Regions from separate parts of the Homo sapiens genome. Here region 2 is linked to region 1. The links come from fine-mapping of genetic effects on gene expression. Tissue or cell type: whole blood. Region 1 holds a variant in brackets; the other region holds the start of a gene. All regions are shown on one strand. Distances are from middle to middle.

Region 1 (16,097 bases):
GGTGGCTGCTCTACATGTTAAGCTGGGTTCAGTCTACCATCTATGCCAGAATGGTTGTGATAAATATTCTCAGATGGACTTAAGTCAACTTTCCTAACTTTATTTTCATTGTCATGGGTAAATGTTAGAGAAATGACATGGGGAGGAATGTCTCTGCTATCTTTAATGAAAAGTGTGTCCAATGTGGACAGGGCAGTGGGAGGCTTGTGAAATGTAAATTGTTTTTATAGCCACATCGTGTGATGCTCAACCCTGGCTTCATAGTGAATTAGATAGGGAGCTTCTAAACAATACAGATTCCCAGACCCATCCCAGAACGATGGAATCAGTTGGTCTGTTCTATAGGGATAGGGACCAAGCATTAATATTTTATCTCCTAGGTAATTCTCATGTGCAGTGGTATTGAAAACACTGGTATACAACCTTGAATTTACTTGCTGGCAGAGAGGATGGGAATAAATTGTATACAACTATATAGGTTGCGAGCCAAGAAACCAAGAGTATTAGCTAGCCAAGTGATAGACAAGCAATTTACCCAAAATATTTACCAAAGAAAATCAATATTTTTGGTAAATTGTGTATCATCCAGTTAGCTAATAGGACTAATTATACTCCTCTTAATTTCCCCTCTCAGAAATGATCAAGGTCATACATTAATACTATTTATTAGGTTTTGAAGACTTTCTTTAAAATTCTGAATTGAACATTCAATTCAGTACAACTAAGTGAAGAGTACAACACATTTAGTTTATTTTTAGCTGGTGTTATATCTACTCTGGGAGCTTGTTCAATATGAGCTTTTCTGCAGTGTCATTACTAGTTTTTTGGTAACCTGCTTGCTTTTAGTATGTTGTAGTAATTAGTTGCTTTATTCAGCCTATATTTGTAGCCCAAATATTTAGTCATTTGCAGCTGAAAAAAATAGCATAATGACTTGGTAATAGTCTTTGAAATTTCTGTGGCAACTTTTTTTTTTTCAAGGAGTATATTTTCGTCAGTCTAGATTTATTGATTTATCCCATTATGACATGAAATAATCTTTTATAGGTTAACGTACAAAATGTGAAAACTCCCAATTTACCTGCCTTCCCTAATTGCTGAGATGAGGCCAATATTTGAGACTCTTTATTTGGCCATTGTGTTTCTCGGTGGCCGCTCTGATGGGCGCTGGGTTCTAGCTTTAGGATGCTGCTGGTGGCCACTGCCGGGTGGGAAGATTATCACTTGACGCTCTGGGGATTAGAAAAACACCATAGTACTGTAGATCAAGTGCATTGTGTCCAGCATTCGTGATTGCTGTTTATTTTATAGTTCTCATCTATCCTTATTTGTCTCTGCATTTAGACTTTCCTTTTATTAGGTGATAATGTGATTTGTACTTTGCAGATGGAAATTATTTTCAAAAGCCAGAATTTGATCTTGTAGAGGTTGGAAAGTTCTGAATTGTTGGCTCAATTTAACCCCAGATGGCAACTGATTTCTGTCTCTTCGTTTAACGTTCAGTAAGAGAATCATTACATGAGTTGGCCTTTTGTTGACTTCCAAGTGAATACAATTAGCAAAAGAAAAAACTCTCTTAATTTCCCCAGGTACCAAATTGAATCCCCCTTGAACTTATTAAGTGAATTTCCCGGTGGAATTTATCCCTGTGGTTGGTGAACCACTCTCCTATATATTTTCATTTTAACTAAGCCTTAATACGAAGGCCTTCAGTCTGAACTTAGTAGATTTCTTTATAGGTCAGATATTTTTCCATATGTTCAGCTAAAATTGACCTTTTAAACAAAAATTCATTGAAGCAAATAAATCACCATTGTTACTGTTTGTTTCATGTGTTTTTGGTCTGCTCAGTACCAGATGACACGGTAGCCACCTGCAAGTAGGGCTTTTTTGTTTTGTGACATAACTACGCTTGAAGCTATCTTTAACATCCTAAGCTAATGCCCTATAAATAATTGGCGAGAAAGTGAAACAAGGCACTGGGACTTCCTGTAGGCCTGGAGTGATATGTGTGTTCTGGCCCTTCAAAGCTGTGCGGCCTTGAGCATGTCACTTAACCTCTGTGAGACTCCTGTTTCTCTTTGATAAAGTGATAATACCTACCAGCGAATCATCTGCCTGTTGGATAGTGAGGAGACCAAGCCTGGCTACACACTGGAATCTCCCAAGGAGTTTTCAACACACTGACCCCTGGTCCCACCCCCAGGGATTCTGATTTCATCTTGGGGGTAAGGGTTGAAACAAGGAGAAATGATAGTGGCTTCAACTACTAAGCATCAGTGGACATGATGGGGAGTGGTCAAGATTCAGAATATAACTAGAAGATAGATCCAACAGATTTGTTGATGGCTAGGTTATGGAATTTTAAAAAAAGGAGTCAAAAATGACTAAAGTTTTGGGCCCTGAGCCCAAAACAGTGGTGCCATTTACCGAAATAGAAAACACTGGGATGAAGGAATGAAAACCAGCTTGCATCTTAGAAAGGAGTGAGAAAGTCCCATGTGTCAAAAATACATATGTTTGTAGACATTTATTTTATTCTCTTAGAGTATTGCATTCATCCTAAAATCTGGATTTCAGAATTTCCATCTTCTGTTTCCCTCATCTTCTTTTCTCTGAATATTCTTTAGAATTTCAGTAAATGCACCTGTTAGTGTAATACGTGTTCCCCATTGCTATGAATTTTAGGTATCTGGGAACTGTATGGATTTATTCTGTTTGGGATCGATAATTACATTGCCAGGACTTTTTGCTGCCCAGTCAGAGTTGATGAGAACAGTCTTTCACGTGATCACTGCGTTCTTTTGGCTCTTGAGGTGCTCCAAACTGCAGGGACATTTTCCAGAGTGGATATATTAAATGAAAGCACTTACTATAAAGTAGGTGCTAAGCAAATGTTTTTTGAATCTGCATCTGGTGAGTGACTGGGATAAGATCAGGCTGTTCAGATTTTGGAAACTGAACTTTTAAAAACGCTGGAGTGGTTTTGAAGTCTTCGTGGAGTTTTCTTATATTCATCTGTATGCCCATCACACCTTGCATGGCAGTGGTCACGGTATACCAGCAGGTCTAGGGAGCTAATTTCATGATTCTAATTAGTAGTAGTAGCATCTTGAGGTAAAATGTTGCATTAGGAGGTACTTACTGCATGGAGTGATTTTTATTTATGGCATTAGAAGGTTCTTGAAGCATTTGTTTCATCCACCCTCGCATCGTTTTTGTTCTACCTGTGGATTGAGTAGGGCGTGCGGCAATCTCACACATGTGTAGGTGTCATTGCTTTAATGTCACTGAGCAATGTGCTGGGTCTTTTCAGTCTTTGCAGCCCACCAGCTGTCATTCACACATCCTATCTTAATCTGTTTAGTGGAGGTTTCTGTCGTCTTCTTTAGCTACATCCTGACAAACTGAAGGATGCCGACCATTCCTTACTTTGTTTTGTGAAAATGATTCTTGGCTTTTTGAGCCAGTCTCATCTGACCAGTCTTAGTGGGTTCTTCAGTACTGCCCACAGTGCTTGTGGTAGATGAGCCATCCCAGAGCCACACCCATTCTCAGAGTCTCGTTAGGGTGTGCTGGAGTTCTTGGATGCTCTTTTGTGGGTTTCCTCTTTTTCTAGCTTTGTTTAATGGATTTGTTGGATATTTGGCAAACCTGGTTGTGGCATTGTGTTATCAACAGGCAGATGAGAGTGTCACACTTTCCTTATCCTGGGTAATGTCTGTTTCTGTAGGATAAAACACTTGTCTTGTTTGTGGACAGTGTATGTTGCTGTGTGTGCTATACTGATGTCCCTACCAAAGTTGTAATGGGCAGGAAGACTTTAGTTTCTTCACTGGATGTTTTTGATGATTGAGACTTTGTTTAAAAAAAAAAACAAAGGTGAGTTGTTTTCCTCTCTTGCAAAGTCACAATGGAGATAAGAAGCAGGTGCCAGTTAAACTCCACTGACTCATTCTGAGATTAATGTAGCAGCATAATGATGTTATTTGGGTGTTTCTGCTTCTTGTAATAAAACGAGGACTAGTCTGTTGGAACTAATCATATATCTACCTGTTTGTATGTTATAAAATGTGTAAATAGCTCTAAAAGTTAAAGTTGTAATGATTCAGATAACTTTCATCATTGTTCATTCATTTTTTTCCCCAGTACTTTTTAAGGCCTAGCTCATTCAGAGCTGTAATTCAGTTCTATCTTCCTATGAACACACTGCTACTGAAGTCAATGGGGTTAACTATCCTACAAGCATTTGTAGTAACTAATTTAATAATACTCTTTTCCATGTACAAAATGCGGAAAACTTGCGCCCTGCACTGTATCAGTGGTTCTCTCAATAAGCTTATAGTTGTCTTAAAAAAAAAAAAGAAATTTAAAAGGATAGAATCCTTGGATTCTAGAGTTGGAAGGGAACTTAGAAGTCATTTAATGCAACACAGTAACTGATATGGCTTGAATACCTCACAGTGAAGGGAACACACCCACACACACCCTTTTAAGACAGCCCATTCCATTCTCAGACACCTCAGATTTTTTCTTGATAAGAAAGCAATAAAAGCAGTAAAAACATTTATGCTCTACATGCCTTGCTGGGTCAGGTGTCTCCCATATTGTATTTACACAGTTGCTTCTTTAGGCCTTTAGTATAGAACCTTCAACTTATTCAGCCTTTCAAAATCTTCTAGAATTCTGATTTTTTTCATGTCATCTGTACATTGATTAATCGTGTCATGTGTCCTTATCCTGTCATTGGAACCCAGGCAGTCTGCACCCAGAGCCCTTACCAAGTTAGGCATTTACTGTAAGGGATCCTCTTGTATCACAGCAGAGGTTCATTGTTCTTTTTTTTTTTTTTTTTTCTGGTGAGGGGGAAGTCTCTGTACGTCTGCTCCTTCACTTCCTAACTTTGGCATGCATGTGGCTTCAGAGTGCCATGATGCTCCCTCCAGCCCACCTGTCCGTGATGTTCCTTACTTGGTGCTGAGTTGACTGACCACAAATCCACATTCTCTAAAAGGGATCTGACTGGCCTGGCTGGTCAGGTGCTCCATGTTGACCCTGACACCTAGGGCTCAGGTACTAGGCCAGGCCAGGAGATGGAAGGAGAGACCGAGTCCAAGGGTGACCCAGGGGAGGCTCTTTCAGAAGGGCTCACAGGCAGGGATGGCCAAAGAATAGCTTTAGTATGTGAGACCCCTCCATGTATGTTTGTCAGCTACATAGTTGTGAATCCACATTGTTTCATAATCATGGAATCGTGTGTCTTCATTTATAACAATAGGGCCTACACAAAAGCCTTCTTGAAATCCAGATGCTGAGGGTTCTATTTTTGAAAAGAAAGAAAAGGGATTTAGTCAGTGGAGGCTTACTGATCCCCACCAGTCACCACCTCCCTTTTAAGCAGTCTGTTAATCAGCTGCACTTAATGTTTGACTAGCATTGGCCTCAAACTCATTGGCCAATAGCATTATTATTCAGACTTATCTAATGTAAAGGACCTTTTTTAGAGGAAACATTTCTTTTTGGTCTTTGAGAATATATTCTTTGTATGAGAAACACTGCTTTCAAAATAATTAAGCTCAGTTCCATGTTTAACTGAATTCTCAGAAATGTTCTTTTAACTTCTGAATTTTCAGATCTTTCCCAAAAATCCTTTAGAAGCAGTGGATCTCATTTTGTAAATCTGTGAACTTTGAAAGCACATCTGTAGACTCCCATTTTAAAAAACAGTGGTTTATGATCTTTATGATCCATCTTCTTTTTAGAACACTGGGAGAGTGCAGGTGGCCCTCCTTATCCCTGAGTTTCACGTCCATGGATTCAGCCAATCATGGATCAAAAGTATTCAGAAAAAATTCCATAGAGTTTCAAAAAGCAAAACTTCAATTTGCCACACACCAAGTACTATGTTGAATCCATGCAAATGACGTGTAGGCATTGTGTTAGGTATTATAAGTAATCGAGAGATGATTTAAAATATACAAGAGGATGTGTGTAGGTTATTTGAAATACTACATCACTTTATATAAGGTAATTGAGCATCTGCAGATTTGGTAAGGGGTCTTGGAACCAATCCCCCATGCATACTGAACGATGACTAAATTGTCTTCATCTTTTAGTTCCTCTCTCATTCACCATAGTTCTTCTCTGATTAGTAACAGTTCACTTAACTATTTTGCAGGTTCTCACAGTTCTGTAGGTTAGAAAATAATTATATATACCTACACATACATATATGTATTTACTATAGGCTAGGAATTCATTTAGAGCAGTTAGGTGCTGATTTTTCTTTTTTTCCCTCTTAAAATAATCCCCTACCTTGTCTTTTGGTTTAGTTCTTCGAACTAATGTTCATTCTAACCTTTCCAGTCTTAAGATGATTATCCTTGATAGACGATTGAAGCAAAGTAGATGTTGGAGCTGAGAAGTTCTGCCTTTTATTATCTGTTAACAACATTGTATCATCTATTCTAGGCAGCAGGCTCATCTCATCAATTCTTTGTGTCCCAGATGAAAGGGGGAAAAATCGAGTGGTCTCTAACGTTTTTTACAACACCTTTCCTCCAGTCTCAGATGTCTGTGCATCTGTTAATATTCACTGTTGAACATGTGAACCTATCTATTTTCAACCTTTCCTGTGATCTTTTTTTAATCTTGTGCTTGTTCAAGTACTTCCTGTGAAGCAGCAGTGGTCTCTAAATACAACTCCTTCAACCCTCCCTGACCACCTCCCCGCCTTGTCAGGGCCTTCCACAATTACTCAGCATGTGGGTTTGGACAGCTGTTGGGGCTTCTGCACTTTGTGGGTCTTGATAATAAATTGAAATGTGCCCTCCTGAAATCCAGAATACATATCTGACATGGCCTGGTATTCCCCTTTGACAGTCAAAAACTCTTTGATACAGTTATTTTTTGAAGAGTATCATTACTACTTTACCACTTTTGCTTGGATTAGAATCCAGTCCGTAGTGTCAGTCTGCCTTGTTTCCTGTGCATTTTTAGAGGTGAACTTAATGCCACTGCAAGTCAGTGGTGCTTTAAGCTAATTGAGACTTCTAGGAGATGCTTGGTAGATGTCTGGTGGTTGCAACCCCTCGTTTCTGGTGCAGTCTGCTTCTGTGTCAATTTTTAAACATCTATGTTGGCAAATATACTATTTAATTCTTCTGTCAGATAAAGTTATCTGTGGGTTATTCCCAAGGAGATGTCATTAAATTCCTTCTGTCTTTCATTGTTCTGGTTCCTTTTCCAGTTAAGCATGAAATGGCGTTAGTAAATGTTTTATTATTTCCAAGCAATTCAGCATGCCGAAGATGACTATTATTTTAGGTTAATATCCAAGGCTGGCTGCCAACAAGATTGACTGTTTACTATGTGTGACGCCCAACTCTAGGCATACTATAGATTTCCTTGTAATACTGCTTAAGGATATCCTTTCTTCTGAATGTCAGGAGTACTCTTTAGAATCCACCACTTAGAATTTGTAGTGCTACTTCAGGGGCTTGTCGCAATTTAGCGTGAGTTCAAGAAATGTTAAGCCATTACTTTTTTTCCTTTTTTAGACAATAACTGCTGTGGTGTGTTTTACACTTGTTTATTTTTAAATCAATTCCCTCAAAGGCACTTAAAGAAACATGTCATTTACCATGTCTCCTAATGACAGGTCCTGATGACAAAATATATTAGTGGTTATTAGGATAGAGACAAGACTATAAATTTCTGGGAATTTTTGGATGCCTTATATTGAAATAGAAAATTTAGCAAACATTTAGTGCACAGAAGGGACTTTCCTGAAGGGTCATTCATGTTACTTCCCCATATTAGAGTAGCATACTTAATAGATACTTACCCATACCCTTGTGCCTGTCCCATCCTCTGTACATAAGCATGCATAGCATTTATTATTATTGAACTAAGCATATAGCTCAAAAGATTAGTGTCAGATGTATGATGGTCTTTTACATAGACAATATATTCAAAACTTTTGTAGGTATCCCTTCAAAGAAGAATGGCCAAGGAGAGTATTTTGACACTTAAGTAGCATCCAACAAGGCTGAAGGGGTAGAGAAATGTCTGAACTGGAAATACTGTTGAGGTGTAATAGACCAGCAAAGGACAGAGTTAAAGGGAGAGGTGAGGTCAAATTTAATTGTTGAATGAATGCATGAATCTATCTATCAGTGTCAGAGCTTTAGATATGGGTTGGACTTTATCAGTTTCCAAATGTTGTCTTGCCTTTGGTGCTCAGTGACTCTCTAACCTTGAGCAAGTCTCCATATGACAAGTGATGTCTCCTAATCTTCATTTTTAGAACTCTTTTAAAAAGTGAACCCTTTTGTATAATGAAAAGCTATCAATTGTTGAAGGAGATAACCATGTTTTACATGATCAAGGGTATGTAATGTTTGTTATAACTCAGATGGACTTGGAGGTAATGAGCTAGCATCACAGTTGCATGAACAAGAGGGTGATGGAGAAGAAGGTAGGGATGTGGAAAACCGTTTGGCTATTGTGCAAGTTCCTTAGAGTTGCAATCCACAGTTGTCCCAGAACGTGCTGGACTCAGAGCTTGTTTAGGGCAGCTGTTAACATCAGAAGAGATCTGATCCAGCAAGTAGGGCCTGTTGGGGAAGGTTCCAGGTAGCCTGCTTATTCTTAAGCAGGAAAATTGCACTGTGGTTCCAGGTCATCATTCCATGTTGATCAGAAAAGCCAGCTAGCGGTTGAGGTACAGGGAACAGGGCTTAGCTTCTTGTAGAAGGCTAGCCAGTCTGGGTAGGGCATCACTGCCCACCTACATTAGATGGGTGTTGGGACAGGACTTGGCTTCCAACAGAGGACTGAAATGATTCTGTCAAGACTCCATAATATATAGGCTGAGCATATCCTTTAAGCGGGTGGAGTAGCTCCTGGAATCACATGAAACGCTTAGAGAAAGGTTGAGGAGGATCTAAGGCAGCTTGACTAATACCACAGATTCATTCCTGTCTGTGTTCAGCCTTTTCATCTCTCCAGATGGCAAATTGACTGACTGGCTTAGCCTGGACTGTGTGCTGACTTTTAAGTCAATGAGGAGCATGGAGCCTTGATGGAGCAGTCCCCTAAGACTCTGGGGGAGGGGTTCTCCAAAGGAAAGCAATGGGCTGTTTCCAGGAGAAGCAGATGCCGAGCTGGAAAGAGCAGATTGTCCACTGCACAGAGTCTGCATTAACACTCGGTACAGGGATGGTGTATTAATGCAACTGAAAATTCCATTTTTCCTCTGGCTACTGTTGTCATGATCTAGAAATTTGAGAGGTATTGCTAAATAGTTTCCATTTTAATTTCCATGCTTTTAAGGGTGTTTGATTTCTTCAGTGCCATATTTGAAAATGTGGTTTGTAAGTCTTTACCTTTGAAGCACCCAGTTTATTGTTTCCAGAGTAGTGGTTCCTTCTTTTCATGAGCTCTCTCTCTCTCTCTCCCCCTACCCGTCTCTGAACAGCTGCTGTCAGGCTCACAATCGAACATTTGAAGTGACTGTTCTGCTCTAACAATGCAGAACATGGGATTTCAAGCCTCTTTTGTCACTGCAGTAATTGCTTCTGCATTTATAATTAAATGAACTATCTGTACTAAGATACCACTAAAAACAAAGTAAATACAAACATCTTAATTATTCAGCCAAGAATTGTTTTGATCCAGCTTAAGAAGCTTATGTGTGTGTGTGTGCGTGTGTGTGTGTGTGTGTGTGTGTGTGTGTGTGTGTGTATTAAGCCCATTGCTTTCCTTTGGAGAACTCCCCCTTCCCCCATAGTCTTAGGGGACTGCTCCATCAAGTTACCATGCCCCTCTTTGACTTAAAAGTAAGCACATGGCCCATGCTAAGCCAATCACAGTCAATTTGCCATCTGGAGAGATGAAAAGGCTGAACACAGAGAGGACTGAATCTGTGGTATCTTGAACTGATTCCATTAGTCAAGCTGCCTTAGATCTTCCTCAACCTTTCTGTAAGCTTTTCATGTGCTTCCAGGAGCTGCTGCACCTGCTTAAGAAGCTTACATACATACATACATGTGTATATATATATATATATATATATATATATGTGTGTGTGTGTGTGTGTGTGTGTGTGTATATATATGTATATATGTGTGTATGTATATATTCTTAAGCTTCTGTATCAAAACAATATA[T/C]ACAAATACATATGTGTGCATATATATATTCAGGACTTTCAATTATTAAGCCTTTGAAAAGGATAGTGGTTAATGCTAATAATTCCATCTTAGTAGTACCTAACTTTAATCACACCTAAGTTCTGCAGTTGTGCTTGTAAAGTCTCTGTCTAGTTTCCCTGTTAATATTCTTTTATTAGATTCTTTGACTGTTGCAAGCATGACTGCTTGTTTAATGACCCCAACCTAAGTCAAGAAACTTGAGCAGCTAATATGGTCCCTTTAATGCCTAATATTGGAAACCATTGAGTGAAAGGTTATATAATTGCACTCTCCTAAATATGTTTAGGAAATAATATAATAGATATTCTGATTCCAATTACAGCCTTACTTATAATTGCAATAAAGTTGAGTCTGCAAAAAACTTAGTGGTTCTATAACCGTATTACCAGGCAACAGTGATTTTGTATCTTGTTCTTGTCTCCCTCCTACCTACCACCCCTGCATTTCTGTTGCATAACCCCATACAGATGACAATTTTGTTAAAAAAAAAAGTACTCAATATTAATTGACCAAATTATATGGCAAAATTTATTATTTTGCTGTCTATATTGATTTACACTGGTCACAACTATAAATATTATCCAAAATAAGTAAATGTTAATACCTACATTACAGTCTTTAAGACTTTTAGTTTTCCCGTATCAAGTATTTTGAAGGCGAGATTAATCTGTGGGGAGGATAGGGTGACGGGAACTGTTTGAATGACAAGTATTGTGCTACATTGCTAACATAATGTCATCCTCACATTAACCATATTTTATGGATGAGGAAGCTGAGACTCAGATGATAAAATAATTTGCCCATGTAGAAGTGTTATAATCTGAATTTGAACATACATCTGACTACATAGCCTATTTATTTTCTCCCATAGTATGCCTTTCTGATTTCATAATAAAAATAATAGCTAGAATTTTTGCATATGCATGAGGAGCCAGGCACTTTACACATGCATTATTTCATGTAATCCCCACAAACTCTTGTAAGAGCGTAGGTAGCTAAAGGTTAATTATCTTGTCTAAAGTAACCAGAGCTCATAACTGGTAGACCTAAACAGTCTCTCTCATTCTTAGGCATGATTCTTTAATGCCCTCCTTGATTATATTCTGTATTTTAAACATTATTGATTACCATGTAATAATGAGAAAAAGGATGCATGGTATCTAAGGATTAGGGTTGTTTGGCTGTAAAGAGAATTCTATTCATTAAGTGGTTAATTATTTGTTGTATTTACAATCCTACAATAAAGTAATGGGCAAAATTAATTTGAACAATACATGTAACCCAACACATCCAAAATATTGTAAATTTAGCATGTGATCAAAATAAAACATTATGGGTCAGATTTTTAAAAATCCTACATTTCTTTCATGTCTTGGGCTTTTGCGTGGAGTAGCACCAGGCAGTAGTACTATGGAGCATCATGCAATCATGAAGAGGTTATATGGCTCATGCCAGCTCTGCCTCCAGAGTATAATGTATGCATCCACTTCCTTTCATCTCTGTCACCAGTCTAACCCAGGACTCATCATCTTTTACCTGGATTATCACAGTGTCCTCGAAATGGTCTTTCTACTTAAACCTGTCAGTGAATTCCTACTGCATAAAGAATATAAATTCAGGCTGTTATTCTCCCAATCTGGCCCTGCTTCTTTTTGTTTTATGCTCTGTTTACTGTTAGTGGCCCTCATGTTCCTGGAAATGCCAAGCTCATTCTCCCCTCCAGGGCTTTTCCTGCTATTCCCCCTTTTGGGTTGACAACTGTCCCTTATCTTCCTTTATGTGTCATCAAGGTCTCAACTCAGCATCTCCTTGAGACGTCTTCTCTGACCATTCAGTGTAAAATAGCAGCAGCTATAGTAGCATCACTAGCAGTGATAACAACAACAATGAAAATAGCTCACATTCATTACTAAACTCTTACTACGTGCCAGGCATTGTTCTCATATTTACTCGCTGGGTCCTTACAACCACCCTTTGAGGTAAGATACTGTTATTAGTTCTATTATATGCATAATGAAACTTAAGCACAGAGACTTCTGTCAATTGTTCTACAATCACTTGTTTATTTTCTTCCTCATTCTTACCATGTTCTGTAATTATCTTTTTCTTCTCTAGAAAATAAGTCCCTGAGAAAGAGGACCTTATCTTATTTCCTGCTATTTCTATAACATTTTTAAAATGCCCAAAACATAGTAGATTCTTAAGTATGTTGAATGAATGAATAAGCAAATGAATGAACAACAGGTCTTATTAGATCATGATATTTCGGATGAAAAATGGAATATTTCAGAAATGATACTTCTCTCATATGAGCAGGTCAGAAGCCTTTCACTTATACTATTGAGCATTTTCCTCTGTTACATTGTACTGTGTGCATATAAGCATGTGATGATGAATCTGGGCAGATGAAGAAAGGAAGACTCTGTGTCGTCATTCTCAGCAACCCAGTAGTCACTGATCAGTAGGTGCCAGGTAGTTGTTGGCAACTGATTATAGTCACTGCTTAGCTTTTCAAATATGGATGTTGAGTTACCATCACAAAGCACCATTTCACTTCGTGACTGAGTTTTGGCTGCAGATTAAGGAAGGCAACTGTTGCTGTGAAACATCTCAATAAAGGCTCAAGAAGGGAAATTTTTTTTACTTTGTTTTTCAGAATTTTCCTGCTCTTCTGAACAAAACTATTGATTTCTTTTCTGCCTGCTGCTCAGCAGATATTAATTTCACAGAATTTTAGAGCTGAGAGTAACTGTCAGATTATTAGCCTAGCCTGGCTTCCCCATTTTACAAAGGAAGAGAATAACCCCCAGGGATGAAGTGGTTTGTGCAGGGTCATGTGGGTAATTGGTAGAAGAACTTGAGCTCACCTCACAGCCCCTAAGTGGGTTAAGTGATGAAACACTGTTCGGGGAAGATGAGCACTTGCTCACTTCAGAGTCATAATTAGGATAGTGACCCACCAGCATCCTTTGTTTTCTTGACAAATAAAATTATTGCTGGAAGCTAAAATAGTCACCAGAAGGATGTTGCTTGTATATTTTTATTTGGTAATACAAAGTAATCTTATTAACATATTCAGTAGTTAAAAGTTACATGTGACTATTCCCTATACTGAAATTCTTGGTCCTTCTGAAGTTTAGAAATAGCATTTGGCCATTTTACGACCAAGAATGCAAAATTTGGCCTCTTAGAGTCTCTGGTTTAAAATATGCATAGCAAATACTGGATAATTTTATTATTGCTTGAGATAAACCACAATTCAGAAAACAAAATTGCTTTTCTGCTGGCAGGGGGAATAGGAATCAAGCAGAATATTACAGACATTATTTGGCATAAATAAGGAAAAGTCTTTTCCTTGCTCATTTCAATAAAAGCTAGACCAGATTCATTTTTCTGGGAACTGGTTTGATTCTGACCGTTTTTAAGAAGTTACAGACCTTGGAGAACACAATGTTGAAAGAAGCTAAGATTTCCCAGAAGCTGCTATACAAATGTGCTTTCATACATAGAAAAGGATCCTTGCTCAGTTCCATTCCTCAAAGTGATAGGTGTATGAATTTGCCTGCCAATTTGCTCTGTGAAACTTAATTTAAGAAGACTAATAATGCCATTAGTGGATGTCAAATGTCTGAGCACCAAGGACATTGGGGTGAATGCCTGAGTTAGTCTCTTGGAGAATCGAAAATGTGAGGAAGGCGCATATATCTGGTGTTACTATCATCATTTACTTTGTGTGTCTGTACTTGTGGGCCATTTTGAGATGTCTCCAACAACTTGGAAATTTGCGAATTGAGTATACCTTCTCGTTTCTTTCTAAGACTAACATATACAGGAGCAAAGTCACCTGCAAGGGGGCTAGATTGGTTCCTAGGCCTACAGGATTTGGTAATCCCATTGGAAGATTAAATATCAATTTGTGTTCGAAGGTGGAAATGGGTATGGAGATGGTCAAGGAAGGGGTAAGTCATGGGGTTAAACATTATCAGCACTCTTCTCAGCTCTGCAGAAGGGAATAGAAGCATTAGCCAACAGACTTGAAGTATCATGGCCTCATTGTCAAGATATTGCAACAAACTTTTAAGAGGTTGGTCCTACAGATGCATCTACCCCTTTAGCAGGATTGGTTGCATCAGGCTGTACTTCCCTAATGCTATGAGAGTCTCAGTTCACCTAACCACTGGTGGGTGGGTTACTTTGGTCATTTAACTTCTACACAGGCCAATCTGGGAGAGTTGAATTGATTATGGAACTTCAGTTACTCTAGTTCCTGTGGCAATTACTTCTCATCATAAATTTACTAATTGTTGTTTGGACATCAGTCCTACAGGCTTGGGCAACATATGTCTACTTGAAAGAGATCTGTTTCTAGTATATTACTAATCTGGTTTTGCTCACTTGTTAATTCATCAGGCTTTGAGGGCTTACTATGAACCAGAGGTATAATAGGTAACTTACCATGTAACAAGGGAAGCAGGTGAATTGTCAGTTACACCACAAGGTAGAGAATTACCACCCCAAAACATTCTTCAACCTCTAACCCAGAAGCCGCCTCCCATTTTTATGAGGCTCAGCCTATGACTGTATCATTATTCACCCTGTTAGCTCTTTAAGTATAATAGACATTTACAATATCTATTACATTTATTGTAATACAAATTACATGTATTGTAATCTATTACAATATTAGGTGTTTTAAGTACATTGCATACATATTCCTTCATTTACTACCAACTATTCCAGGACATGAACACAGAATACTTCTCTTTGACAGATTAGGAAACTGAAGCCTAGTGAAAGTAAGTAACTATCTAAGGTCATGTTTTATTCTTGGCTTTGCCATTTACCAAATACTGTTCATTCGACTATACTTAATACGGAGTTCAAACCCATTGCATGGTGGGCTTCAGAGTTCAGTCTGAACCCAGAGAAAATGGGTGGGGCACTGAGTGGATCTCAGAAGCAGTCTGTTGAATGTCTTGAAGTCCATTTCCGTTAAATAGGTGAGTATTGTATGTCCTCTTTGCACAAGATTGTGCTAGGAAAAGCTGAGAGAGATACCAAAGAGCATGATTAAGATGCGTTTCTTTCTCTCAGTAAAGTTCACCTTTAGCATGACTTTACAGACAAAGAAGGCTTCTGAAGGCCTGACCTACCAGGAAGACTCAGAACTGTTACCAGATCAAGAACGGCACTCGCCTTCCCCTTGCTTTCTGTGAGGGGATGACATAAAAGCGTCAGAGTTTTCAGTAGTCCTTAGGAGTTCAGACAGGTGGATTAAAAGCTACTAGTAAATTTTAATGACTTATGTGAACGAACCCTCTAAATTATTAAACAGCAAGGGACATGGGTTCCTTCCTTAAAACGAGGAATAGAACTCCATGTATAAGAAGGAATACCATCTTAGTTTGACCCTCTTTGGGGCAGGGTGGTAAAGGATTCTCCTATTTTGATTGCCTTTGTCACCATTCTAATAGCTCAGCTTAGGCATTGCCCAGGTATGCACATGTAGCTCTTTATGTGGTTATTATAGCTGATGAAGGTGGTGATATGCAGAGGAAATAAAAAAATGAAATCATAAAATAGAATTATCTGGTGCATATTGAATAACTTTCAATTTTGAATGTAGCAAATGTGTTTTCACCTTTAACCCAGAGCTGTGAGATCAAAATTGCTACCTACCTTCCTCAAAGTGTTGGTTCATTAATCAAATGGAAGAGTCCGTTTCTCTTTACATGGAAAGAGTCTGGATTGACAGGTTACTTACGTTAAGTCCAGACCTAAGTTGCCCATTTCTGCAATGTAAGATGATTGCATTGAAGAGTTTAATTATAATGGTTACAAACTCTCACTTCCAAATTAGCAAAAATGCTAGTCTTTTTCCCA
Region 2 (16,097 bases), 19 kb before region 1:
CTCCTTGAAATAACACCTAATGTGACATGGTGAGAAAAAAAAGCAAGATTTTCTTGGGAGGTTTTTTTCCTTCCCTTTTTCTTTTTCAATATTGACTTTCTGGTCAACATCAAGAAAATAAATTATATAATAATATTTTTCTCCACTGGTTATCCTTTTCATACATCAAACATCATACCATACTGTTTTCAAAATAAAAGACATAACATGCAGTAGAAACAAAATGTTTAGTGTAAATTTTTAGATACATTGCAAAAGCCCTATAAGCAACATTAAAGGGTTTCTGATATAGGTGTGGAGGCCCAGAAATATTTGGGGATACAATCATTATATACAGATACAGCCTAGCTTGCCCAGAGTACAATATACCGTGGTAATTTTATATTTATTCACATAATAATTTGATTAGTATTTGTCTTCCTGATGCAACATACATTCTATAACAGTCTGGATCCTGTCTGTTTCAGCTGACCACTCAATTTCCAATATCCTGCTCATTATCTAAAACATGGTGGGCACTCAATAAGTTGTGCTGAATGCTGATGAAAAAGCTTATCTAGTTACAGATAAGAACCATTCCATGGGTCAAGAGGAAACTTTTGGAAGGAATGGATATGTTTCTTATCTTGAATGTAGTGATGGCTTCACAGTTATATATATGTATCAGAACTTAAATTCTACATGTTAGACACATGAAGTTTATTGTATATCAATTCTACCTCAATAAAGCTGCTTTTAAAAATGTCTAAATGTATGACAATATTATGTTGATTGTCTTATACACAAGTTCAGGGACTATTTTATAATAATACTTTGTATAGAAACCAGCATTATTGAAATGCTGTTTGGTAACCTTTGGAAAAGAAGCAGCACTTCTAATTAAGTATGAATTTTTCACATCTTGGCTCTGATATGCAGGAAACTTTTAAAGTAAAAAAAAAATAATTTAATTAATCTCTTTTCATCTGTTTGAAATAACGCTATTGAATGTAAGATCCAACACTAGATATTATGATACAGCAGATCATTTCCCTTTGAATGTGCATTTACTTTTTGAATAAAATACTCAATAAGTGTTTTTCCCAAAAGATTGTGTGTGAGTTGAACCTGATTTTAAATATCCTGGAGATACTAATTCTTTAAAAATTTCTTTCAAGAGTTCTTTCATATAATACAAAACTGCATTTTGAAACTCTAGTTTCATTTAAACAGGAGCAGAATATTTTCAATTATATTGAAGAAAACATTGTTGTACTTTTTTGTTGGAAATACCCAGTATATGCAGAAGATAATAACATTAAAGACACTATAACTTTGTATTAAGACCTTGCTAAGGTGTTTGAAAAGACAGTAGTACTACAGGTATGAGAAATGAATCATAGTTGTGAGGGAAAAGTATTGATTTTATCATTATGAGTAAGAATAAGTGACTAAATTATTCAATGACAGCAAATTTAGAACTTTTGGTTGAAATTGGTTTATATTTAAAATTTGATCACTTAATTTTGACATTAATTTTTGTGGCACAAGGTTTTGCTGATATCAAATACTCCAAAGCAAATATGTTCTAAATTATTTCATGCAAATAATTCTCACAAAATAATATACCCCAATAAACATACTTATGAAGGACATAACTTATTATCTCTTCAGATGGAACACTACCTATCCTTCTACTCATTTCCAGTTTCCAATCTGAGGGATCCAGTTCATTTACATTCATTCATTCAACAACTATGTATGAATCCTGGACTGTATGACAGACACTGTTGTTAAGGTTGAACAAATTGCAATTAGCAAGACAAACGCAGCGAGAACTATTTATCATAAACAGGTAAACAAACAAATAAGAAAACTCCACATAGTGATAAGTACTATGAGAAAAATAGAATAAGGCAATGTGGCAGTGTCTAGCATTGGGGATAGTGGGGCAATATTAGCTGGAGTAGGCTGGAATCATCTGAGCCCTGTGGACGAATGAGGGGCTAGAGAAGCTGAGTCTGAGAAACAAGCAAGGGCAGGATCATAAAGATTTGGTTTTCTTCCTGAGTGCCATGGGAAGCTACCAAAGAGTCTTAAGAAATAACATGAACCAGTTTGTGTTTTAAAGCAATAATAATAATGGTGGCTCCCGTGAGACGAATGGAAGACAGGCATAGAAGCAGGGCGACCAGTTAGAAAGTATGGCAGGCAAGCGATGATGGTGACTTGTACACAGGTGGTAGAGGTAGAGATAAAGTAATGTGCATAGAATGAAGGTACATTCTGGGAACAGAGCCTAAACATCTCGCTCGTGTATTGGAGGGTTGTGCATATAAAGGTGGTGACACAAAGTAAGCAATCAAAATGAAGAAGGCTGGGGCAAAGAAAGTCCCTTACAAGTCTAACAGTATAATGATACTTTAACCATACACTATGCATTAAATTAATATATAACACCCATGATTATAGATACCAAAGCCTAATCTTCACTTGGAATAACCAGGCAGCTTTGCTATTAGATAGAATTTTACATCTCAACCTAAATGTTAAACTAAAAGATGTTAATTATGTAAAACTTAAGATTAATTTACCCGTTTCTTTAGTGCTTCTGCAAAAGAATTGGAAGTATAGTGGCCAGCACTGCTTAGTGTATGTATTGTATGGTTGTGTGGTAATCCACTTTCCATGCCTCAATCTCAATCACAAGCAGGGTTCTCAGCCATGTCTCCAACAACCCCCAGGACATGAGTTTCCAAAGCACCTCCAGCTGCATTGTGAGTTAACAAATTAGTGAGCAAGCTTTTCTCACCTACTTGACTATAAGTTTCTCCCAAAGGGGACCAATTCATAATTTTGGGGGTCCCAGACAATGACAAACCAGGTAATATCAAGTAATTAATAAGTGCAATTCCTCCCAAGATAGGAATATCCTCTGATATCTCTTTTGGATTTTCTGGACTTGGTCATTTTTTGGCTGATGCCTTTGGAGATTTAATTTTAAAAAATTTTTAACAGCTTTATTAAGATATAATTCACATAACATACAATTCACCTTAATATAATCCATTAGTATATTTACAGAATTGTGCATCCATCACAATATTTTTTATTACCCTAAAAAGAAACTCTGCATCAGCTGTCATCTCCCAGTGCTCCCATTCCACCCCCCATCCCTCAGCAACCATTAATCTTTTTGTTTGTGTAGATTTGCCTATTCTGGACATGTCATATAATTGGAATCATACAATATGTGAGCTTTTGTAACTGGTTCTTTCACTTAGCATGTTTTCAAAGTCATCCATGTTATAGCATGTGTTATTTTATTACTTTTTATTGCAGAATATACCATGGTATGAATATACCACATTTTATTTATCACTTGAGGGACATTTGCATTATTTCCCCTTTTTGGCTATTATGAATAATGTAACATTTGTGTATAAATTTCTGTGTGGACATCTACTTTTCTCTTAGGTGTATACCTAAAAGTGTAATTGCTAGACCATATGGTAACTCCATGTTTAACATTTAATGAATTGCCAGACTATTTTCTAAAGCAACTTCACCATTTACATTCCACCAGCAGTATATGAGTGCTACAACTTCTCTACATTCTCTCCAACACAAAATTATCTATCTTTTTGATCATAGCCATTCTACTGAGTATGAAGTGGTATCTCAGGTTTTTGATTTGCGCTTCCCTAATAGCTAATGACATTGAGCATCTTTTTATGAGTTTATAGGCCATTTGCATATCTGCTTTGGAGAAATAACTATCCAGATCCTCTGCTCATTGCTCATTTTTAAATTGGGTTGTCTTTTTATTAGTGAATCATAATAGTTCTTTTTTTTTCTTGAGATGGGTTCCTGCTTTGTCTCCCAAGCTGGAGTGCAGTGGCGTGATCATGGCTTAGCTCCCTGCAGCCTCGACCACCCCAGCCCAAGTGATTCTCCCACCTCAGCCTCCAAATAGCTGGGGCCATAGGCGTGCACCATCACGCCTGGCTAATGTTTTAATTATTTGTAGAGACAAGGTCTCAACATTGCTCAGGCTGGTTTAGAACTTTTGGGATTAAATGATCCTCCTTACTTGGCCTCCCAAATTGCTGGGATTACAGGCAAGAGCCATGTCACCAAGCCTCATAATCGTTTTTAATATAATCTAGGTACAAGTCGCTAATCAGCTATATGGTTTACAAAAGTTTTCTCCCATTCTGTGGGTTATTTTACAATTTCTTAATGATGTATTTGGAAGCACAAAAGTTTGGTTTTGTTTTTTTGTTTGTTTGTTTGTTTTTGAGACAAAGTCTCGCTCTGTCACCCAGACTGGAGTGCAGTGGCACGATTTCAGCTCACTACAACCTCTGCTTCCTGGGTTCAAGCGATTCTCCTGCCTCAGCCTCCCAGGTAGCTGGGATTACAGGCACCCACCACCACGCCCAGCTAATTTTTGTATTTTTAGTAGAGATGGGGTTTCACCATGTTGGCCAGGCTGGTCTCGAACTCCTGACCTCAAGTGATCCACCCACCTGGGCCTCCAAAGTGCTGGGATTACAGGCATGAGCCACTGTGCCCAGACAAAAGTTTTTAATTTGATGATGTGCAATTTATCTATTTTTTCTTTTGTTGTTTGTGCTTTTGATGCCATATGTAAGAAACTATTATCTAAGTTAATAAATATTTACTATTTTTCTCTGAAGAGTTTTATAGATAATTTAACTTTTACATTTTGGGTGTTTGATCCATTTTGAGTTAGTTTTTGTGTATGATACAAGGCAGGGGTCCAACTTTTTTCTTTGGCATGTGGATATCCAGTTGTCCCAACATCCTTTGTTGAAAAGACTATTCTTTCTCCTATTTAATTTTCTTGGCATGAAAACTTGATTTCCAATCTGTTTAGTTCCAGTAGTGACATCCTCTTAGTTCTTTTATTGTATTTTTTTCCTTTGTAATTTCAACTATCATTTACCCAACTCTGGGTACCTGACAGTCACCTCTGATTTGAATGAAGTTTAAACCTGAGTCTGTAGGCCAATGAAGTTCCATTGATGTCCACACCCTGCTGTGACAGTAGAACAGAGTAGACGTATTTACACATACTTTATTTTCTCTAATGACTTAAAACAGCCATCCTAATTCAAAGAGAAAGCTAAGGACATGTTTTCCCATTTAGTCCTACATGGCACAGTTATTGGGAATGTAATGAACATCTGCCACTCAATGTTCATTATATTAGAACATAATTTACTTAGTAAAGTTGAGGAAAATTTGTGGCAAAATTCAAGGGAAAAATGTCAAAAAAAAACCCACAAACGCTTAAAAGTGGGCATATTGGGATTCCTAGCATCATTCATTTAGAAGGCTCATTAGGAAACAAAAGTATCCTAAGATGACATTGCAGACTCTCCCAAATCTGGCACCTTTAGTCTCCATACATGGATTCCCAGTGAAAAACCTTTACTGTAGTCAAGTCAGTCTCTTTGTTCCTGCCAAATATATATGCTCCTCTATCACTCCACTGACCTTAAACATTCATTAAACAATGACTACCAAGCATTCCCACTAGAAAGAGGTCTCCTTTTTATTTCTATAGAATTAACCCCTACTTTAAGATCTAGCTCAACAATGTTGATCACCCTAGCTCTTAGAAACTTAGCTTTCTCTCAAAGTCCATAGTTGCTGCTTGTCTATTTGGCATGACATATTAGCCATCTTGTTGCTACTGCTGTTTAGCTTTCATTAAGTGCCTCTATAACCTAGTTCTCTGGCTCAGCACCTCACACGTGTTACGTATTCAATGTACATTTTGTGGAGGATAAAACCTGGATCTTAGGGAAGTTGTCCTTAAATAACCCTCTTCCTTCTAAGTCTATCAGCAGTATAGTCATATGACCTGAAAGATTTTAAATGATCTTGCTGACATCTGAATTCTACTACAGATTCCGTGACAAAGTCATGTGGCTGGAACCGGAGTTCCCTGCCAGGGGCTGGCACATTGCACTTCTCACACAATAGAAGGTGAGACGATCTGAGAGCCTTAAAATCAAGCAGATGCAGATTAATGCAATCCTCAACTTCAATCAAGTTCTGAACCAATAAAAATGTGTGATTTCTAGCAGTCAGGAATGAGTGGTTTTTAAGAAATAAGGTAGTTGGGATACGCTTGCCATTATGGATAAAGTGATAATATCAGGGAAAGGACACACGGTAATCTATAGACTATATCATGCAATATTCTTCTCTGTATAAGTGACTTGTTTCCTGTATCAATGACGTTTTCAACTTTGCTGATGAGTTAATGGGACACACATGTAAAAAATGGATTGCTCTATACAAAACAGAGGTAACTTCTGGAGTTCCTTCAGTTATTACTTGTAAATAAGCAGAATTGAACCTCAACCCCATCTGAGGACTAATTAGGAATTACAAAGGTGATTGCTCATAAATGAACTATCGTCATGCTGCTGCGCACTGATTTTTAATAAGAACTGGTTATGGCTTCATATAGAATTACACCTAAAATGTTAATCAGAAAAGCACTGCATTTCCTCCAGTTTCTGTTCGCTAACTTTTAAAGCTGATTATTATTTTTACTATTTTCCTTGCTATGTTAGCCCTTTAATTTTGTTTCAGACTCATGTTCATTAAGCCAGAGCAAGCCTGCTTTATACAAGGAGACCCTGGGCCTTGGAAGAAATAAAAATGCCCAGTGATGACAGTCCAGATAAAGCTGTGTTCATTTTTTACGTTTAGAAGACCATACTTTAAATCATGACTATCACTGAAACAGATAGATTCATTTATTGTTGAGTCCTGCTTTACCCTGAGATGTTCCATGAACACTGAGAATACATTTTCTTTGTTCTAATTCCAGCCTCTGAATCAGAGCCAACTAGAGTGGGCTCTTCATAAATATGCATTGACTGCCTGAGTATTAATGTAGGGCAGGGCTCTGATTAGCAAGTGCTACCTGCAGGAAGCAGAAGAAATACCACAAATGGAGATAGGACGCTATTAGCAGATTTTATTTCATTTTTTCCTGAGGCTTGGAAATAATCACTTCTCTCTCAGGTCAAACCTCTCCAGCTCTCTCCCTTCAGGATGTGAAAAGATCTCAAATAAAAGGCCTCTATGTGAGGATCTCTTTCGCTGGTTGCTGGAGGAAGAGCATGAAATGAGGGAAGAAGCAAATTGCTTCTGATTTATTGTTTCTGGTTTATTCCTTTCCTGCCAGTTCAGCAGCTCGCCAGAAACAGCACAAAACCTTACATCTTAACTTGAAGGTGAAGTATTTGTTTTGACAACTTTTTAGCATAGATCTCGGTATACAAAATAAAAGGTAATGAGGCTATGATAGTCTGAAGGACATCGGCAAATTAAAATTTAACATATTTATGGATTTTATACAAAGACTCCTCTCCCCTTTGCAGATAAAACGACTGCATCCAACTTTATGCAGATTTAACTAAAAGAAAAAAAAAAAGTCTTTTGTGAACCACCTGGGCCAATACTTAGTTGGCTTAATTGCTATTTCAGTGCCTTGTCAGGCTGCAGAGCCTGAACTAGGGAGATGCACCGGGCCCACTTGCAGGCGGGGCCCAGATGCACCCAAGCCCCATGGACAAGAGCACCATGGGCACCAGGGGCCTCCCGACCTGGCAGCCTGTTGCTAGTGGGCGAGGCAGGAGGACAAGTGCGGCTCAGGCCACGAGTCGGGCTGGGCGTGCAGAGAGGTTAGAATTACACCCAGATGGCGAACAGTCAGTCGTTCCTTTCCTGCTCTGGCTGGGAGCTAAACCTTGTAGTCCCAGACCCTTTCGCCTTCGCCTGCCGGCTCAGACCCAACAGCTCTTTCCGGACGACGGGCGGCTCCACTGCGATCAAAAGCCAGGGGTAGCGGGAGGGGATTCGTGAGAATGCAGCAGCCAGAGCAGTCTTTCCTTTCTGAGCAAGATGTGAGAGAGTCCGAGTGGCCTGGAGGAGGAACCGGGTCAACCAACTCCACAGGGCGGAGCGAAAACGCTGGAGGACTAAGGAGGCTAAGAGTTGATCCCCCCTTTGAGTCGTGATACGGTCCGAAGCGGGGCGGGGCGGGGCGAAGGAGGCTCCCCCTGGCTCTCCCCGCCCCTCACCCGCCTTCCTTGCTGAGCGGCCGCGGGAGGGGGAGCGCGAGCCCCGCAGGCCCCTCCCCCGGCGCCGGCGCCCGAGCTCCGCCCCTCGCCGAGCCGCCCCTCCGCGGCTGCAGCAAGAGCTCGCCCAGCTCTGCGGGCGCCGCCACCTTCGCCGCCACCGCTGCCTTTCTCCTCCTCCTGTCGGCGTGCGGGGGCCGCGCCCGGCGGCAGCTCTGCCCTAGGTGGGCGGCGGCGCGGCCCAGGCTGCAGCTGAGCGCTCTGCGCGGCGCAGCCGGGTCTCCCGCGTGTACCACGCCGTGACAGGTGCAGAGTCCGGGCTGAGGACCCACCTGCAGCCGCCGCCGCGATGCCCACCATGCGGAGGACCGTGTCGGAGATCCGCTCGCGCGCCGAAGGTAAGGGGCCGCCGAGGCTCGGGGCTAGCCCGGGGTCGGGAAGCGAGTGTGTGTGTGAGCGTGTGTGTTTATCCTGGAAGAGACCGCATCCTACCTCTTCCCCGGCGGCAGTCCGACTGTCGCGCCCGGCCCCTAGGGGACCCTTCCCCCCGCGCTGCCCCCAGTGTACTCGCAGACCCTTTCCAGGCTCCAGTACCCTCGAATGGGTGTTCTCCGCGGGAGCCCCGAGGCGTGCTTTGCACCGCAGTGTGACCATTAGGTCCCAGTCACTGAGCTCACTCGCCCTGCCCACCTCCCTCCCCACCAGTTCGATTTCCACTCAGCAGATCCCCAGCCCGCCGCCCCTGCCTCCGGCGCCCACCGTTTTGCAACCCCCTATCTGAGCTCCCAGCGAAGCGAGTTTGCTTTTCCCCGGCTGCAGGATCCTTTGATCCGTAGTCCCTTGGCTCTCGAAGCGCGGGGAGCCTTCATCGGGGTCGGGTGCCGAGTGGGTTCCCTGCATTACAGCTTCTGCAATTCTGCCTCCTGCAGCGGAGTCCCACCGGCTCGCGTCTGAGGTTTCGTTTTTGTGTTTCCCTTTTGCCCGAAACCCTCACTTCGGCCAGCTGAGCTGACTTTTCAGCCAGGTGGAAGCTGTTTTCTTTGCTCCACCTGGGGCCAGCTCTTGAATGGCCATGGTTGTCAACACTGAGCAACAGATGCTCCGGGGTAGAAGCAAGTAAGCTTTCCGAGGGCCCAGACTCTTCATCGTCTCCGAGGAGCCCTCAACATCCTGCCTGCCATGTGGCAGGCACTCTGTAAATATTATTTGATTTTGCTCGCGTCAAAGCCAAGACTGTAAATATCCCAAGGTTTGTTTGTCCTCTCCCATAAACCTGTACTTGAATCCTGCAGAGGGTGGAATAACATGTTTTTCAGAAATCTATCTTGCCATCATCGCTGATTCCCACTCTTCCTCCCCACCTCCATCTTTTAATGTGAGACAGGTGGTGAAGTGGTTTTAGAAAAATATATAAGTTAGGAGAATTGGATTTCAGGGATGGAGACAGGCCATTTTTTCTCCTTAGGGGCTCCCTGTAAAAATAGGGTCCCTGAAATTTTCTGATTGCAGTATTTAGGAAATATTAAATGAAACTGCTGTGGGGAGAAGACGAAGCAAGATTCAAAACTGGCCTGTGTACTACATAGGAATTCGGTACATGCTGTCATTTGTAATACCCAAAAAATACTTATATAGGGCATTATAGTTTTACATACACAGTTGAATACATTATACTTTTAAAATGCACACTGTAAAAATTCATTTTTTTTACACTTCTGAGTGAAATTAGTCATAGAGATAGTGAAAGTAGAATGGTAATAGTTGGTGGTGTTCTTTTAAATAATAGCAATTGATGGGTCCTATATTGTGGGAAATAAGGGGAAGAGAAAAAGTCTGAGAGCACTGCAAAACCTGTGGCATGTGAGGGGATTACAGGGCTGCAGTATTGTTCTTGATTGGCTTGTGTATTTTCCAAAGTACTTTTACAAAGATTACTTTATGGAAACTTACAACACTCCTGGAGGTTGGTGAAGGTGGAGTGCCATCTGATAGTTGAGGAAACTGTGGCCCATATGGTTTAGTAATTTGCCCAAGGTCAAGTAACTAGTTCAGTGACACATTTGGATTAAGAGCTCTGGGAAAACAAGGACTGCTGCTTGTTTAATCTTTGTATTCCCTGTGCGTCCAGCACAGTGTCAGGGCCATAGTGGTGCTTGGTGAGTGAATGACCCTTTCCCCTGAGATTAGTTGATTCCAGTTTATTATAGCTTCAGCATGTGCTTGGGACTGTGGTGAAGACAAATAATGACTCTGTGGGGCTGGCGTTGTGGCTCATTGCCTGCTCTGCCCACACTTTTCTTTCCTAGGAAATATTTCTTTCCTAAAAAATATAGTCCTACCTTTCCTAAGGAATATTCTCCTTTGAGAGAGGCCCTGCTGCCTAGAGGGCCTTGTTCTGAACTGCAGCCTTTTTGGCCTCAGCTGATTGGACTATGGTTGGCTCCTGACCCAGGGTCAACCAATTCTTATGTGACTCAGACACTTGTAACCTTGTGGTTTGGCTCAAAAAGAGTCTCTGTGTTAATCATATCTCTCTTGAAAACATTAAAGTTAGAGATTTAGAGTAAAAGCAGAAGGGAGCAGAGGTGAATAGGCTGGTATGGGAGAGAATGGGTGGCCATAATAAGTCATGGGAATGCTGCTGATAGAAGAAAGCAGAAACTATGAGTGAGTAGAGAGATAGCAAAGAAAATGGAATGGATGGGCAGACACAGATCCTGAGAGAGGGTGGCGAGACCTTGGAGCCTGCCCTCCCGAATTTTATAGCCCTAGTTCCCAAGTAGCATTAAAATAAGCTCTTTTCCCCCCCTTGAAATGACTTGAATGGGTTTCTGTTCCCTTCATCCAGATTGGCCAGATGTATGACTGTCATGCCTGTAAGTTGTTTACAACCAAACTGGGGAGAAAGGACTTAAAGAGGGAATAAATAGTCTAAGAGGGGATGTTGTTAATTAAATATTGTGCATGCTGTGGGGGACGCAGGACCTGTGGAAGATTAGGAATTTAGTACATACTTATTACTGAACATAAGGCCTGCTGAGTGAACATTTCATTGAGGTGTGATTTGAGATGAGCCCTCACACAGTGCTTCTCAAACTCGAAGGTTCATAGGAATCACCTGAGGATCTTGTTAAACGCAGAGTCTGATTCAGGAGGTCTGGAGTGGGGCCAGAGTTACTACATTTCTGACAAGAATGTAATGCTGAAGGATGCTGGCCTGCAGATCACAGTCTGAGCAGCAGGATCCTAAAGGATACTGACATCTATTTCTGTAGTTAGGAGAGTGTTGAAGACAGTCATAACAAGAACAAATGGGGAAAGTGAACATGGCTTATTTCAGAGTTCTTAAGGAAATTGGCCGGGAGCAGAGGGAAACTTGGAAGGAGCAGGCTAAAAGTTTGGATAGGTAGATTACTGCCAGATTACAAAGCATTTTAAATGCCAAGGTGAGTCATTTGGACACAGGACCGAATATTTGAACAGGTTCTTAGAGTTCATTGAATCTAATTTCTTATTTAAGCCTAACTCCAATATATAATATCTAACAGGGCCAGTTGGGGGCCACATCGTTATAAGGGAGGGACATCCTAAAAGTAGTAACTTAGTTAAGTCTGGAAGTGTGTTGGCTGGTTTGGAGGAAAAGGTATGGTAGATAGACTCTTTTGCAAAACAGTCTTAAAATGACAAAAGTCAGAATTAGTATTAGAGTGGAACAGTGAGAATGGGAAGGGAGGAATCAGATTTCTGACTGAATCATTAACTCATTCAGCAGATGTCTACTGAACTTCAACTACTGTTACAGGCACTTGGGATACATCAGTTAACAGAAGAGGAAAAGCATGGCCCTGGAGGTGCTTACTTTCTAGTGAGGCAGGAGACAAAACACACACAAAATATGCTAATTATAGAATTTGTTGTGTGGCAAATGGGGAAAATGAAGAGAAAGCAAAATGTTTAAGGTGGGTGGATGGATTGCAATTTTAAGTAGGTTAGTTAGACTAGCCCTCATTGAAAAGTTGGCATGAAGGAGATAAGGGAGTTGGCCTGGTGGGGATCTGGGGGAAGGGTGTTCCAGCCAGAGCAAATGCCCCAAGGCAGGAGAGAATCGGGAATTAGGAACGGTGAGGGGAAGAATAGTAGGAAATGAGGTCACAAAGGTCATTGTGTTAGTCCGCTCTTAGGCTGCTAATAAAAACATACCCAAGACTGGGTAATTTATAAAGACAAAGAGGTTTAATGGACTCAGTTTCACATCGGGAATTAGGAACGGTGAGGGGAAGAATAGTAGGAAATGAGGTCACAAAGGTCATTGTGTTAGTCCGCTCTTAGGCTGCTAATAAAAACATACCCAAGACTGGGTAATTTATAAAGAAAAAGAGGTTTAATGGACTCAGTTTCACATGGCTGGGGAGGCCTCACAGTCATGGCGGAAAGTGAAGGAGGAGCAAAGGCAAAAGAGCGTGTGCAGGGGAACTGCTCTTTATAAAACTATCAGATCTCGTGAGACTTATTCACTGTCATGAGAACAGCACGGGAAAGACCTGCCCCCATGATTCAGTTACCTCCCACCAGGTCTCTTCCACAACACTTGGGGATTATGGGAGCAACAATTTAAGATGAGATTTGGGTGGGGACACAGCCAAATCATAGCAATCATATTATAGGACTTTGCTATTTAGTGAATATTTAGTAAACATAGGGCAGGAGAGAGAAGGACTTTTTTGAAAAAAGCAAGTCTCAACAATAATTTAGAATTCTAATATTAATAAGTTACCATGGATCTTATTGGTAATAGCATATTGATATTTTATTAGTAATAACATTGGTAGTAGGTTCATAAATTATCAGGGATCTTATTGGGCTGGCTTGTGAAGATTTAGTTGAGTAAATCTGTGGTGGGCTTGGGGATTCGCATTCTTAATGAGCCTCCCAAGATACCCTGGTGCTGGTGAAACACATTTTGAGGAAATTTCCATTACAGTCTTGAGCTTGACTGGTTGAGAAAATCTATTAAACAACAAGGAAATTGGGAAGGAGGACTAATAAAATAAGAGATGATACTAATTCAAATTTTGAGGTAACGGGGACATCCAAATGGACATGTTTTAAAGGTAGTTGGAAATTTTTAGGTGAGATGTGGGAAACCTCAAACTTGGGAATCTTGAGAGACAATAGTTGAAACCCTGATAGTGGAAAAATTTGCCATAAGGCAAGAGTAGATAAAGCAGAAGACTAAGAATTTTAGGTCTCTTTATTTAGCTGCCCCAGATAAATCAAATGGGTGTTTGAACTTAGCATTTGAAATCTGGAAACAGACTGAAATAATGGTAGCTTACACAAAATAGTTTTTCTCACTCCTGTAAAACTAGTGTGGAGGTAGACAGGGTTGGCTGTGCCTGCTACACAAAGTCATAAGGGATGTTGGCTCCTTGTGCCTTTCTGCTTCACTGTCCTGAGAGTTTGTCTTCCATAAAGTCACAGCATGGTTGCTGGGGTGCCAGCCATCATGTACAATAGTTTTAGCCAGGAGAAAATGGAAGGGTGAAAGGCAAACAGGTTTTTCAGAAAGCACCACACAAAAACTAATGCTTATTTTGCATTGGTTTCCACTTGCAGGGCAAGCTGGGAAATGGAAATTTCCAGCTGGACACATTACCCAGTGTTGTGTTACAAACGGAAAAGGGTGTATGGTTATTGAGCAGTGCATTAGTCCATTTTCACACTGCTGATAAAGACATACCCGAGACTACTCAGCTTGGAATTCATTGTATCATTATCAGCATTTTGGGTCAAAGCCATTCAACAAGTCTCTAGGGAGTTCCATACTTTCCCACATTTTCCTGCTTTCTGGGCCCTCCAAACTTTTTTCAACCTCTGCCTGTTACCCAGTTCCAAAGTCATTTCCACATTTTCAGTATCTTTTCAGCAGCACCCCACTCTTCTGGTACCAATGTACTGTATTAGTCTGTTTTCATGCTCCTGATGAAGACGTACCGAGACTGGGCAATTTACAAAAGAAAGAGGTTTAATGGACTTACATGGCTGGGGAGGTCTCACAATCATGGCAGAAGGCAAGGAGGAGCAAGTCAGATCTTACATGGATGGCAGCAGGCAGAGAGAGCTTGTGCAGGGGAACTTCCATTTATAAAACTATCAGATCTTGTGAGACTTATTCACTATCACAAGAACAGCATGGGAAAGACCTGTCCCCATGATTCAGTTTCCTCCTACTGGGTTCCTCTACGACATGTGAGAATTGTGGGATTTACAATTCAAGATGAGATTTGGGTGGGGACACAGCCAAACTATATCAGGCAGACAACAGAATCAGTCACAGTGAAGTTCTCAGATTGCCAAAGGCTCTTGCTTGGATAACATAGAAACTGCTCTGGAGCTCATACTTTACATATAATAAGGATTAAATTGTTCAGAACTAAAGAAATGCACACACACAAAAACTTCACATACCTATCCAGTGGTTTGTGTTTTCTTCTGTTGAATACTATAATGCTAAAATATAATGACATTTATTTGATTATGTAAAATATGTGCTAAACGATGTATCCAGAAGTTGTTTTAGGAATTGTTTTTCTAAATGGCAACTCTAAAATGTTTGTAACTATGTAGAATAGTATGTTTTATTTACATAAAAGGTAACAAAAGGAATAAAAAGTAATTTAAGCTGTCCTTAAAGGAAAAATTTTAGGACGCTATTCCAGGTAAAAGATGACTAAGGTTTTTGTTCCTTTAAAAACCACTTATTATGCACCAGCTGTGTGCCAGCTAAATGGGTGGTGGGACAAAAGGCTGTGGTCGATGAAGGAGGTCCCAAAGGAAACATGGAGATGAGTATGGAGATGAGTTCAGTTTTACCTGAAGTGGCACTGTGTGAGAAGGTGTGTATGAGTATAGCGATACAGCATGTCATCAATATTTGAAAATCTCAAAGTAGGTGTCATTTTACTTAGTGTAATTCTGGAGATATAAGTGTATTAGATCTGATTATTTTAGGTTTTCTATCTTCAGTGCAGAATTCATGGTTTGTTTTTTCTGTCATTTCAAAAACAGAATTGAAGCATATACCTAATGTTACAGCTGTGGGAATGTTTGCAAAGGTCAGAGGACACTTTTGAAGTTAACGAAATGTTTGCTGCGTGGGTCTCTATTCACATGGTTTCATTGGAATGTCAATGACATGAAGGCCACCACTTTCCCCTTCATTCTTTACTTCTTAGCGAAAGGAGCCCAAACCTTCCAATGATTGTATTCTCCGGGTAGTAAGCTCCCTAAGGGCAGGGGGTTTTGTCTGGTTTGTCCACTGATATATTGCTCCCCATGAGGACATTGCCTGGCACATAGTAGGCATTGGTTAAATGAATGAATCTATGTCCTAAAGATGAAAATGCCTTATAATCCAATTTGTAAAATACTCAGAGCTAAATCTAGATGTACTAAATCTAGTACCCTCCTACTGAAACCTTAGCACCCCAAAGGAGCGTTTTTGTGAGATTTGTTCGCTGCTGTACCCTCTACACCTAGAGTTTTGTCTGCCACATAGCCACCACTCTATATTTGTTGAATGAATGGATAACTCTGAGCTTTGTTTTTAATGGAAGAGCTTAACTATGAGTCTTGATAGAAGTACTGCCTGCTTACTGGGAAAAACTCATGCTTCAGAAAGTCTTGCAGGAGAGAGTAAAATTCATCACAAACTATGCCATCCAAATATAATCACATTGTGATTATAAACTTTTATATACTTCATATAAATTTATATATTTACAATGTTAGAATTTTAGTATATGTCCTTCCCAACTATTTTCCAGAAAAGATATATTTGTTAGGAAGAATGAGGTAATCTGCATTATTTTTAATAATTTTATGGATATCTGTGCCAATATAGATTTGTGTAAATTTTGTCTACTGTCACTAGTTATATCCTTAGTGCCTGGAATAGTGCTTGACACTTGGTAGCAGCTCAGTAAA

What was found. PIP is the estimated chance that this variant, and not a neighbour inherited with it, causes the effect.
Region 2: ATP8A1 starts here. The variant in region 1 is fine-mapped to the expression of ATP8A1 in whole blood (INTERVAL, PIP above 0.99).

What each region holds. Positions count from the first base shown.
Region 1 is chr4:42,629,770-42,645,866 of GRCh38, reverse strand. The region is part of intron 1 of ATP8A1 (ATPase phospholipid transporting 8A1); the gene reads left to right. Among named protein-coding and RNA genes, the nearest start is that of ATP8A1, 19 kb to the left of the region's middle. RefSeq lists enhancers at 3,841-3,890, 6,557-6,676, 6,907-6,956, 9,532-9,581. The variant T/C (reference allele first, on the strand shown) is at 10,173.
Region 2 is chr4:42,649,237-42,665,333 of GRCh38, reverse strand. It overlaps ATP8A1 (ATPase phospholipid transporting 8A1), which reads left to right and starts at 8,229. Exons shown (of 37, transcript NM_006095.2): 1 at 8,229-8,509. The coding sequence starts at 8,461. It overlaps ATP8A1-DT (ATP8A1 divergent transcript), which reads right to left and starts at 7,811. Exons shown (of 1, transcript NR_186688.1): 1 at 6,987-7,811. RefSeq lists enhancers at 7,793-8,002, 8,993-9,042 and a silencer at 8,033-8,502.